2 separate regions of the Homo sapiens genome follow, and region 1 is linked to region 2. The links come from fine-mapping of genetic effects on gene expression. A gene starts in region 2. The other region holds a variant in brackets. All regions are shown on one strand. Distances are from middle to middle.

Evidence for each region. PIP is the estimated chance that this variant, and not a neighbour inherited with it, causes the effect.
Region 1: its variant is fine-mapped to the expression of PNPLA6 in lung (TOPMed, PIP 0.97).

Annotation. Positions count from the first base shown.
Region 1 is chr19:7,557,862-7,563,232 of GRCh38, reverse strand. It overlaps PNPLA6 (patatin like domain 6, lysophospholipase), which reads right to left. Exons shown (of 32, transcript NM_001166114.2): 28 at 4,082-4,383; 29 at 2,469-2,585; 30 at 2,123-2,219; 31 at 1,916-2,025; 32 at 1,469-1,745. The coding sequence ends at 1,671. Among named protein-coding and RNA genes, the nearest start is that of PNPLA6, 25 kb to the right of the region's middle. The variant C/T (reference allele first, on the strand shown) is at 2,753.
Region 2 is chr19:7,533,130-7,538,500 of GRCh38, reverse strand. PNPLA6 (patatin like domain 6, lysophospholipase) reads right to left here and starts at 2,784. Exons shown (of 32, transcript NM_001166114.2): 1 at 2,481-2,784; 2 at 2,228-2,310; 3 at 1,955-2,052. The coding sequence starts at 2,712. MCOLN1 (mucolipin TRP cation channel 1) reads right to left here. Exons shown (of 14, transcript NM_020533.3): 13 at 4,848-4,978; 14 at 4,492-4,742. The coding sequence ends at 4,706. RefSeq lists an enhancer at 2,710-2,949.

The DNA.
Region 1 (5,371 bases), 25 kb before region 2:
AGGCTGGTACAACTGGAGCCTTGTGAGCCAGGATGGAAGGGGAGCCAGTTAAGATACAGACACCAGTAGGTGCCAAACTATGGACTGAACTTTCCCCTAAATGTCCCCCTCCACCCTCAAAACTCAGAGATCTGGAGGGCGCAGGGATATCGGCGGGGGTGGGGGGGCTTGGAGGGAAAGACACAGAGGGGGCGTCAGTAGCACCTCGGACAGCACCATCCCTGTCCATGGTGCTGACAGCTCGAGGCACTGACAGTCGGTGGGAATTTAAAATGGTGCAGCCGCTATGGAAAAGTTTGGCGTTTCTTCAATTCAACACAGAATCTCCATGTAACCCAACAATTCCACTCCCGGGCATCTAGCCAAGGAAGTTGAAAGCAGGGATCCAGATAGTTGTACACCTGTGTTCACAGCAGCATGACTCCCCATAGCCAAAAGGTGGAAGCAACTCAAGCGTCCAACAGATGAACCAATAAATACCATGTGGTCCATCTACACAATGGGATATTATTCACTCATAAAAAAGATAAACCGTTCTGGCCGGTCAAGGAGGCTCATGCCTGTAATCCCAACACTTTGGGAGGCCAAGGCGGGCAGATCACTTCAGGTCAGGAGTTTGAGACCAGCCTGGGCAACGTGATGAAATGCCGTCTCTACTAAAAATACAAAAATTAAGGCCAGGTGTGGTGGCACATGCCTGTATTCCCAGCACTTTGGAAGGCTGAGGCAGGTGGATGGCTTGAGGCCAGGAGTTTGAGACCAGACTGGCCAACATGGTGAAACCCCTTCTCTACAAAAAATACAAAAATTAGCCAGGCATGGTGGTGCTCGCCTGTGGCCCCAGCTACTTGGAAGGCTGAGGCATGAGAATCACTTGAATCCAAGAGCTGGAGGCTGCAATAAGCTGAGATCGCATCACTGCACTCCAGCCTAGGTGACAGAGAGAGACACTGTCTCAAAAATTAAAACAAAAAACAAAACAAAACCAAAAAACCCCCCCACAAAATTTAGCTGGGTGTGGTGGCGGGCGCCTGTAATCCCAGCTACTCAGGAGGCTGAGGCAGGAGAATCGCTTGAACCCGGGAGATGGAGGTCGCAGTGAGCAGAGATCATGCCACTGCACTCCAGCCTCCAGCCTGGGTGACAGAGTGAGACTCCATCTCAAAAAAAAAAACACAAAAAACAAAAAACACACAGAAAGAAATTGAGGGGTGCCATATCGGGCCCCCAAGAGCACCTGTGAGCCCGGGAGGGTGGCACGGAATGTCTGGCCCTGTGGTCCGGAGTCAGCACTGGCTTCTGAGGAGCCAGAGAAGGGGCAGAGTGGGGACAAGCACCTAGTGGGGCTCCGTGTGGATTCTAGAAAGGCATTCCCTGTGGGGGGCAAGCACCAGGTGGTGTCAGACCCCAGCCCCAGCCATCCTGAGCACAGAAGGTGGGTCCCCAGTCCGAAAACGACAGGAAGCCATTTCCAAGAGGCGAGTTTATTGGGGGAGGGGCTGGTCAAGTCATCAGTGCAACACTGCATCCCCGCTCAGGGCAGGTCAGTCCAGTGTGTGGGCCGCGGGGGTCACAGGCATAGCAGCAGGAGGGGGAGTGAGCTACCCCCACGGGGCCACCCCCAGCCCAGTCCAGGGGTGGGAGGGAGGGGGTGACCCCTGTCGAGGTCCTCAGGCATCTGTGGCTGAGCCGGGCGGCTCCTGGGGCAGACAGCGTCGTTGCCGGAGAATCGACTTCTCCTCCTCCTGCGAGGGAAGGTCACACACACGTCACCCAGCACGGGACACTGATGCGTCACATGTCAGCCAGCACCCAGCACACACAGGATCTCAAATACGCCCCCGGCTCCCCTGCCTGACACTGTACTCATGACCCTCTGGGGGATGTGAGGGGACCCTGGGCCACCCACTCTCACCATCTCGGAGGCAGTGCTGGGGCTTGCGCCCTCGGGGGACCCCCCTTCATCCCTCGAGCAGTCGGGTCCGGCGTCCTCCTCATACTCTGTCAGACAATCTGACTCCTCTCCTGGAATCGGGGAGCAGGGCACAGGTGAGGGGATTGGGGCTGGCCTGCCATCTCCAGCCACTCCCCTCCCTCTTGGGGGGTCCCCTGGGCCCCTCACCGTCAGCACAGCCATCAGAGACATAGCTCGTGGGGGGCTCAATCCGGGACACAATCTCTGCCAAGTCAGTGAAGCCAGAGCTTGGGAAGGCAAGCACCTGTGGGGTGACACTGGTGAGGCTCTTAGGGGGGGCCCACAGAGTCTTGGGGCCCCTGGGGGGCCCAGTGGTGCATTGGGGGCTCAGAGGAGATCCTAGGGTGGGAACTCTCTGAAGTCAGCAGAGGTCTGAGAGCTCAGCAAAACCCAGGGACATGTGGGGTCATCTGAGGTTTCGGGGAGACTTTAAGGGGGCTTGGGTTCTGTAATCAGTGGAGTCAGAGTGGCCCTGGGGGCATCACAGGCTTACGTCTGCACGGCGGCTCTCATTAAGGTCTGTAGACCGCCGGTCTGTGAGCATTTTCTCAATGACGTTGCCACGGCTCCAGCCTCCAAACACCGCCTTCCCGTACTGGTAGCCCACATCCTGTGGGAAATGAGGGGCTGGGTCCATGTCTGCAACCCTGCTTTGCTTGTCCCCACTCTGTCTGCCCATTCTCTGGCCCCTCAAAAGCCTGATTCTCTGGGGGAGTTGCATTTGAGACTAAACCTATTTCAGAGTCAGCTGCACATAGCACACTCGCCTACACATCC[C/T]CTGTCCTGCCCTTGACAGACATTACCAATCAATCTCTCCATGTTCTTTCCCACACAGCCCCATGCAGGGTGCTGGGTAGCAAATAACACAAGGTGGTGATGTGTGAGCTTATTTTGAAGTCTGCAAACAGGCAGTACATCTGTGGATGTCGCCATCCCCAAGCCCACAGCAAACATCTTGAATTTCTCATGGCATGCTATCCCAGTGAGCCCACAAGGGACATCACACATCTCTTCTCAGACTCAGGGCTTCTGGGCTGCAGCTACTGATCAATTTCTTTCTTTTTAAAAAAATTTTTATTATTTTTATCTTTAATTTTTAAAATTAATATTATTTTTTGAGACAGAGTCTCACTCTGTCACCCAGGCTGGAGTGCAGTGGCACAATCTTGGCTCACTGCAACCACTGCCTCCTAGGTTCAAGCGATTTCTCCTGCTGCAGCCTCTCAAGTAGCTGGGACTATAGGCATGTGCCACCACACCCAGCTAATTTTTGTATATTTAGTAGAGATGAGGTTTCACCATGTTGACCAGGCTGGTCTTGAACTCCTGACTTCAAGTGATCTGCCCACCTCGGCCTCCCAAAATGCTGGGATTAAATGCATGAGCCACCATGCCTGGCCCTTTCTTTTTCTTAGAGACAGAGTTTTGCTCTGTCACCCAGGCTGGAGTGCAGTGACGCAATCATAGCTCACTGCAGCTTCAAACTCCTGGGCTCGAGCGGTCCTCCCACCTCAGCCCCCTAAGTAGCTGGGGTGACAGGCATGCACAACCACACCCAGCTAATTTTTTATTTTTAATCTTTGTAGAGATGGGGTTTTGCTATGTTGCACAGGCTGGTCTTGAACTCCTGGTTTCAAGCAATCCTCCCACCTCAGCTTCCCAAGGTGCTGGGATTACAAGCATGAGCCACCATGCCTGGCCCCCTGATCAATTTCAATTGGCTTGGGCTATGGCACATTTTTCAGGGTCAGTAGCACATAACACACGCACTGCTACCTCCCTCTCCTGGAACTGTGGCAGACATTTCTGCTTCATCACTATTCTCATTCCCACCAATGCAGAAATGGCAGTAGAAATCACTATACAGTGCTTCCAGGGGTGCAGCTGGCCTATAAGGAGAAAGTTCTTACACAGCACATGCACAGCCACACCCCTACTACATCCCCTGCAGACATCACCAATTGATCACTGATCTGTTTTCCAGAGATTCCAGATGGGATTCCTGGATTCCTCCTGGATTCCTCCCCCTCATACCACTCTGGGCTTTAAGTAGCAAAGCTTAGCCGGACCACCTATGCAGGCACCATGCCACTCCTGCCCACTCACATAGATCTGGTCGAACTTCCCAAAGTCCATGGTCTTGAAGCAGTCGATGGGCGGGCGCAGGTACTCGCAGTAGGAGCTGGACTTGACAACCTCTAGCTGCCGCACACAGGACACGTAGGCCAGGCGGGACTGGATTTCAGCCATGTCTGGAACCTTTACCTTGTCAGCCCAGGGATTCAGCCGCTTCCACAGCAGCCACCAGCCGGACAGGCTGTCCCCGTAGGTGCTGAGGTCCGTCTCATCCTGGCTCCCCACGTCAATGGCGATGACCGTTTTGGCACCCATGCTGCGGGCGATGTCCGCTGTGGGGCCAGGGGGGTCAGCGGGCTGCTCCCCTCGGGGGCCCGGGGCAGAGATGTTCAACCCAGTCCCACAGATGCCATCATGCAAATGATCACGCAAAAAAAAAAGAGAGAATACCCACACATGCAAACACCATGCTGTCATGCACAGACGTGCAAATGATGCAACTGAAGTTGAGGAGGGGGGTCAGGTGTTGGGAGGTTTTGTTTTATTTTCTGAGACAGAGTCTCACTCTGTCGCCCAGGCTGGAGTGCAATGGCACGATCTGGGCTCGATGCAACCTCCACCTCCCGGGTTCAAGCAACTCTCTTGCCTCAGCCTCTCAAGTAGCTGGGATTAGAGGCATACACCACCACGCCCAGCTAATTTTTGTATTTTTAGTAGAAACCGGGTTTCACCATGTTGGCCAGGCTGGCCTCGAATTCCTGACCTCAAGTGATCCACCCGCCTCAGCCTCCCAAAGTGCTGGGATTACAGGCATGAGCCACTGTGCCCAGCTCAATAAAGCTTTATTTATACAATCAAACAGAGGGCAGGACTCAGCCTGTGGGCCATAGTTTGCCCACCCCTGGCCTACAAGATTGTGAGCATGTGTGCAGTTGGCGTACATGTCTGTTCATATATGCACACTTCTGGGGTGTGAGATTTTAAGTTGTGTACCTGCCCGCTTCTCACCTGCACCCATAAAGGTGGTAGGCATGACTTAACTCGGTCAGAGGTGCCGCATCCTATCTACGTGTGTGCACATCCCTGCGTGTTTGAGGGAACGTGCAGGACAAACGGGACAGACTGGCATGCGTTGGCAAATGCCCTATTTCACTGACACACGTGTTCATCTGTGCACATGTGCCTGTGTGTACACGTGTGTGTAAGCCCTACCTGCCCCTGAGAGAAAGCATGTGCATATATAGCTGGTGTGCACACGAGTGTTGCATTCCACCTGCATGTCCCCTGATGTGTGTGTGGACGTGTGCACCTGTCCCTCTT
Region 2 (5,371 bases):
AGATATAATTCCTTTTTTGGCTGGGCGTGGTGGCTCATGCCTGTAATACCAGCACTTTGGGAGGCCGAGGTGGGAGGATTGCTTGAGGCCAGGAGTTCAAGACTAGCCCAGGCAACACAGTGAGACTCCCATCTCTACAAAAAAATTTAAAAATTAGCCAGGCATGGTGGTGCATGCCCATGGTCTCAGCTACTTAAGAGGCTGAGGCAGGAGAGATCTCTTGAGCCCAGGAGGTAAAGGCTGCAGTGAGCTGTGATTGTGCCACTGCACTCTAGCCTCAACAACAAAGTGTGATCCTGTCTCCAAAATAATAATAATAATTATAATTGTTATGATTATTCCTTTTTTGATCAGGGAGATCTTGGGCTAACTCTTCCCTAGGTCACAGAAAGCTCAGACAGCCCTCTGACAATCATGAAGATATCAGGGTAGTCCCTTAAGAGTGTGCAAACACTACAGACAGCTCCTGTGATGTGGAGAAACCTGAGGTATAGACCCTCAACTGATCATGGGGAACTTTGAGATAGTCCTTCTACTCAACTCACAGAAAGCCCTGCCATTGGCCGGGCTCAGTCGCTCATGCCTGTAATCCCAGCACTTTAGGAGGCCGAGGCGGACGGATCACAAGGTCAAGAGATCGAGACCATCCTGGCCAACATGGTGAAACCCCGTCTCTACTAAAAATGCAAAAATTAGCTGGGCATGGTGGTATGAGCCTGTAGTCCCAGCTACTCGGGAGGCTGAGGCAGGAGAATCTTTTGAACCGAGGAGGTGGAGGTTGCAGTGAGCCGAGATCGTGCCAGTGCACTCTAGCCTAGTGACAGAGCAAGACTCCATCTCAAAAACAAACAAACAAACAAACAAAAAAGAAAGGACTGCCATTGCAGGACTATTGATCATGGAGAGCCCTGCCCTGGTGTGAAGAAACCCTTGAGGCAGACCTCCAGGTAGACTACATGACGCACAGGGATCCCAGAGCCAGCACCCAACTTGCAAAGAGAGTTGGAGAGCCTTTCTCGCAGACCTTGCTGCCAACAGGGATCTCTGATGCATCCTTCCTATATTTCTAGTGCAAGAAAATTCATAAGATAGCCCCTAGGGAACAGAAACTCCTGAGACAGCCTCCTTAGTGTGGGAAGAACTTCAAGGTCCATAACATAGGAAAGATGCCTTCTGATGTACAGAGATGCCTGAGATAACCCCCGGAGAAGAGAGGCTGGAGGCTGGAGATAGCCCCTTTAGGAGATCGTAGAAACACAATTACCTCAGTGAGGTACCCTGGAAGAAAACCACTCATGTGAAGAGACTCATGAAATAACCTACATGGAAACCCCTGATGTAGACCCCCCCACTAAGTATATGGCAAGACCTCTGAGATATTGACTTGGGAACAAATAGCTCAGATACTCCAGTGGAAGGAGAAGGTCACTGAGGTAGCCCTCAGGGAAGAGATACCCTAGAGACAGCATGTCTGGTGTGGAAGAGCTCTGAGAGGAGAGTCCAGAGATGTCTCTCTGAAACAGGAAGACTTTCTTCTTCTTCTTCTTCTTTTTTTTTTTTTTTTTTTTTTTTTTGAGACAGAGTCTCACTCTATTGCCCAGGCTGGAGTGCAGTGGCATGATCTCAGCTCACTGCAACCTCCACCTCCCAGATTCAAGTGATTCTCCTGTCTCACCCTTCTGAGTAGCTGGGATTACAGGCCCATGCCACCACGCCCAGCTAATTTTTGTATTTTTAGTACAGATGAGGTTTGCCATGTTGGCCAGGCTGGCCTCAAACTCCTGATCTCAGGTGATCTGCCCGCCTTAGCCTCCCAAAGTGCTGGGAATTACAGGCATGAGCCACAGCGCGCAGCCAATATGGGAAGACTTCCACAACACTTTGGTGTAAGCTGATTACTCAAAAGGCCCCTGAGATAACCCCTAATACCAGGTCACACCCAGCACAGCCTTACTTCTTGGCAATGTTGAGCATCTTCAGTTTCTTCCTCATGCGTGGCCGGGAGGTGGCGGAGACAGAGGTATCCACGAGGGAGGAGGTGGATTGTGACACCTGGGAGAATGAAGGCGGAGATGGGTGAATTGCTAATTCAGACCTTGGAGAAGAGGCAGACGGATCCAGGGGGTCTCCATCAAGGAAGGAGCGGTGGCGGACACTAAGAAGTGTAAATAGGGAAGGGGCGCGGCCTCTGTGTGGTCAGGGCGGACCCCAGGGGTCCCGGACTCACCTTCCGCATAATCTTCCGGCCATAGAAGAGCACTTTGTCCCTCTTCCGGAACCGATACCGGGGGCCATCCGGGGCTGGGGTTTCTGGGGATAGGTGGGGACAGGGGCACTCCGAGCTCTGTGCAGACTCCACCCTGCCAGAGCTGGGGTACCGCGAACAGACGCCAGCAAATCCCCATCTCTGCCGCCTCGGGACCCGGGCATTTGGGCCCCCCACCATACAGCCTCCCAAGAGGGGCCCCTCGGGTGCTCACTTGGCACTCGCAGCCTCCGCACCACCAGGAGGATGAGCACGGCCGTGACCACCACCGCCACTCCGGCCCCGATCATCACGCCAAGCACCTGAGGGACGAACGGCACTGGCTGCGCACCGCAAATCCGTCCCGCCGAGCCTTCCCCGGGCGCCAGGACGTCCTGGAACCCATCCCTCTCCGCCACCTTCGCCCCCGAGGAGTTCGTAGCCAGCCCGTGACTCGATGTCCCCATCTGCAGAATGGGCCAGTGCTGCTCCCTCCCCGGGGGCGCGACTCTTCCCTGAGGCCCGGCGGCCCGCAGTGCATGCCGGGAAACGTAGTTCCGCCCGAGCGGACGCAGCGCGTTATCGCCAGACCACGTAATGCGCGCTGAGCACGCCGGGAGTTGTAGTCCTCTTGGCGCCCCACGCCGGCACCTACCCGGTCTCCGCCCCACCCCTTACCATTCCAGTTTGCAGCGGAGCCTCCATCGGTTGATTCCAGCTGGACGGCCGATCTGGTAGCCCGGAGTCCTGGGAAATCAAGGAGTCGAAGGAACCCGTGCAAGTCGTCAATCTGGGCCCACCTCTCCCCTGCCTCAAGCCCTGCCCCCAGCTCAAGCCCTGCCCTCTGGGGTGGCGGGGGAAGCGTCTCCAGCTGCCAGGGGCGAGGCTAGAGGGGCGCTGCGGGACTAAGGGATGGAGCAAACCGACCTCTCGGCCCTGGCCAGGAGATGAGGCGGGTCCCCGGCTTCCTGCTCCCTTCGCCTACGCGTAGGGCCTACCAGACGCCCGCCTGTCCAACCCCACCCCGGGGCCAAAGGCCGACCTGGTACCCACTGTCAGCAGCCTGCAGGCAGGTCCCCACAGGGCACGGTCCTCTGCACCTGGTGACTTCCTCCCGGGTCACTGCCCTCTGCAGGGTTGATCAAGCCTGACCACCCCACCCCCCAGGCCGCACCCCCTACTCCGTCGAAGACTGAATGCCCCACCCCAGGAAAACGGGCCCGCAAACCGTGGGGTCCGGGAGTGGGCACCTAGATACTCGGCTCCCGACGCAAGCCTGCCCCGGGGAAGACCCAGGAGCTGGGAGGCACGGGAGTACTGCCGGGGCATCCGCGGAAGGCGTCTGATACCCACGTTTCAGAAGAGTCCTGGGATGCTTGGGGTGGCGTGGGCTTGCAAGGCGCTGCTGGTTTTTGCCGGGGATTTACTATCACGTAGTAGTGAAGTTATGGGGGCTCTATGGCACAGAGCATCACTGGGACTCCGGGACCGATGGTGGCGCCATTGCTGGGAGGCGTAACCAGAGACGCTGGGATTAGTGGGTGGGGATGCGGGGTCACTGGAAAGTTACTGAGATTCTGAGGATTACAATACTACTGCTGGGAAAACCAGGAGGTGGGTGGGCACATTCCTGGGGTGCTTATGAGAGCGGGCCTGGGGAGGGCGTCCGGGCTCCTTGGAAGATACTGAGAGATGCTGGAATATTACTGGGATTTTTCTGGGAAGCTGAGGATGTTTCTGACATCGCTAGAATATTAATGGAAATTCGGGGGCCGGGAGATAGGAATCCCGGAGACTCCGAGTCGTTACTTGGAAAATTCCTGGGTGGCCGGTCCTCTTCCACCTCAGGGCACAGCTGGCTACCGGTGTGGAAACACCTGCCGAGACGTGGGGGGTATGGGAACATCAGAAAGTCTAGAGTTAACAGGAATCGGAGGACAGATCGTGGGAAAGCGGAGGCTCGCTAACGACCCTCGAAGGGACACCCCTGCGAGGCTAACGGAAACCCAGACTCACCCAGGGGCCGCAGCCGGGGTCCACTCCGCGCCAACACCGCTAGCGTTCCGCCCGGCTCCGCAGGCACGGCCCCTTTAAATTATTCACTCCTAGTCGCACCGCAGTCCCTCCCGACCCTCCCACCCCTCCTCCCCGCGCCATGCTTGGAAGGCCGACTGAGGCCGCCATGCTGAGTGTGGCCGCGCCTTAAAGGGCCTCACACCGCTTAACGCAAGGACTGCTCCTCCCGCTAAAAATGAAAACGACACATTTATTTTCCCTTTTATTCAACACCCTCCCCACCCAGTCTCCCCGCCCCCAAGGGTCCGACACGAAAGGTCCAGGCCCTCCTCGGGCGCGACAGGGAGCCGATCCTTAAAAGCAAACCCTACAAATAAATAAGCGGGGTCGGGGGCGGGGGTCTCTGCAGTCCAGGGCCTACGGTCCAACGGCAGTCAGGTCGAATCAATTCACCAGCAGCGAATGCTCCTCCGAGGGGTCCCTGGAGGAAGGAAGCAGGGAAGAGGGGCGTCAGTTTTCTCTGGCTCGCTCCCCTTTCCCCATTCCCTAACCTCCAATCTGAATGTGCCAGACCCGGGACTCGAACCTTCCGCAGCAGCAGAGAAGGCTGCAGGCCGAGCCGCTCCCGCGGCGGAACTTGCCGGAGGTGGGGCTGTCCTGGCACTGTGCGATGTAGGCCTGCAGCTCGCTCTCCTCTGCGCCTGCGCCGCCGGGATGCTGGGGAGAGAAGCCGGGAGGCTCAGCCTGAAAGTGGCTCCCAACCTCCAAGGCCCTTGAAGTCCGCCCTCCCCTCCAGCCATATCTGCATCGCTTCCCACCTCCGGGCCTTTGCACTTGCTGGGCCTGCTCCACCCGTTGTTCCACAGTTTGCTTGCACAGAGGGACCTTCCCTGACCCCTGAACCTGGATACAAGCTGTGTCTTTGCCAGTCTGTGTCTTTGCCTTCTGCTGTAGGTCCAGCACCTACAGACCTAGAGCCAGGGCTGACATGACCTCGATGCTCAGAAACCATCTATTGAGTGAGCTGGATGCACGCTGAGCACAGCAGTGGGAGCAGGGCCTGAGACTGCCCACCTGAGTGGATGCATGTGTGTGATGTCTACGTGCTAA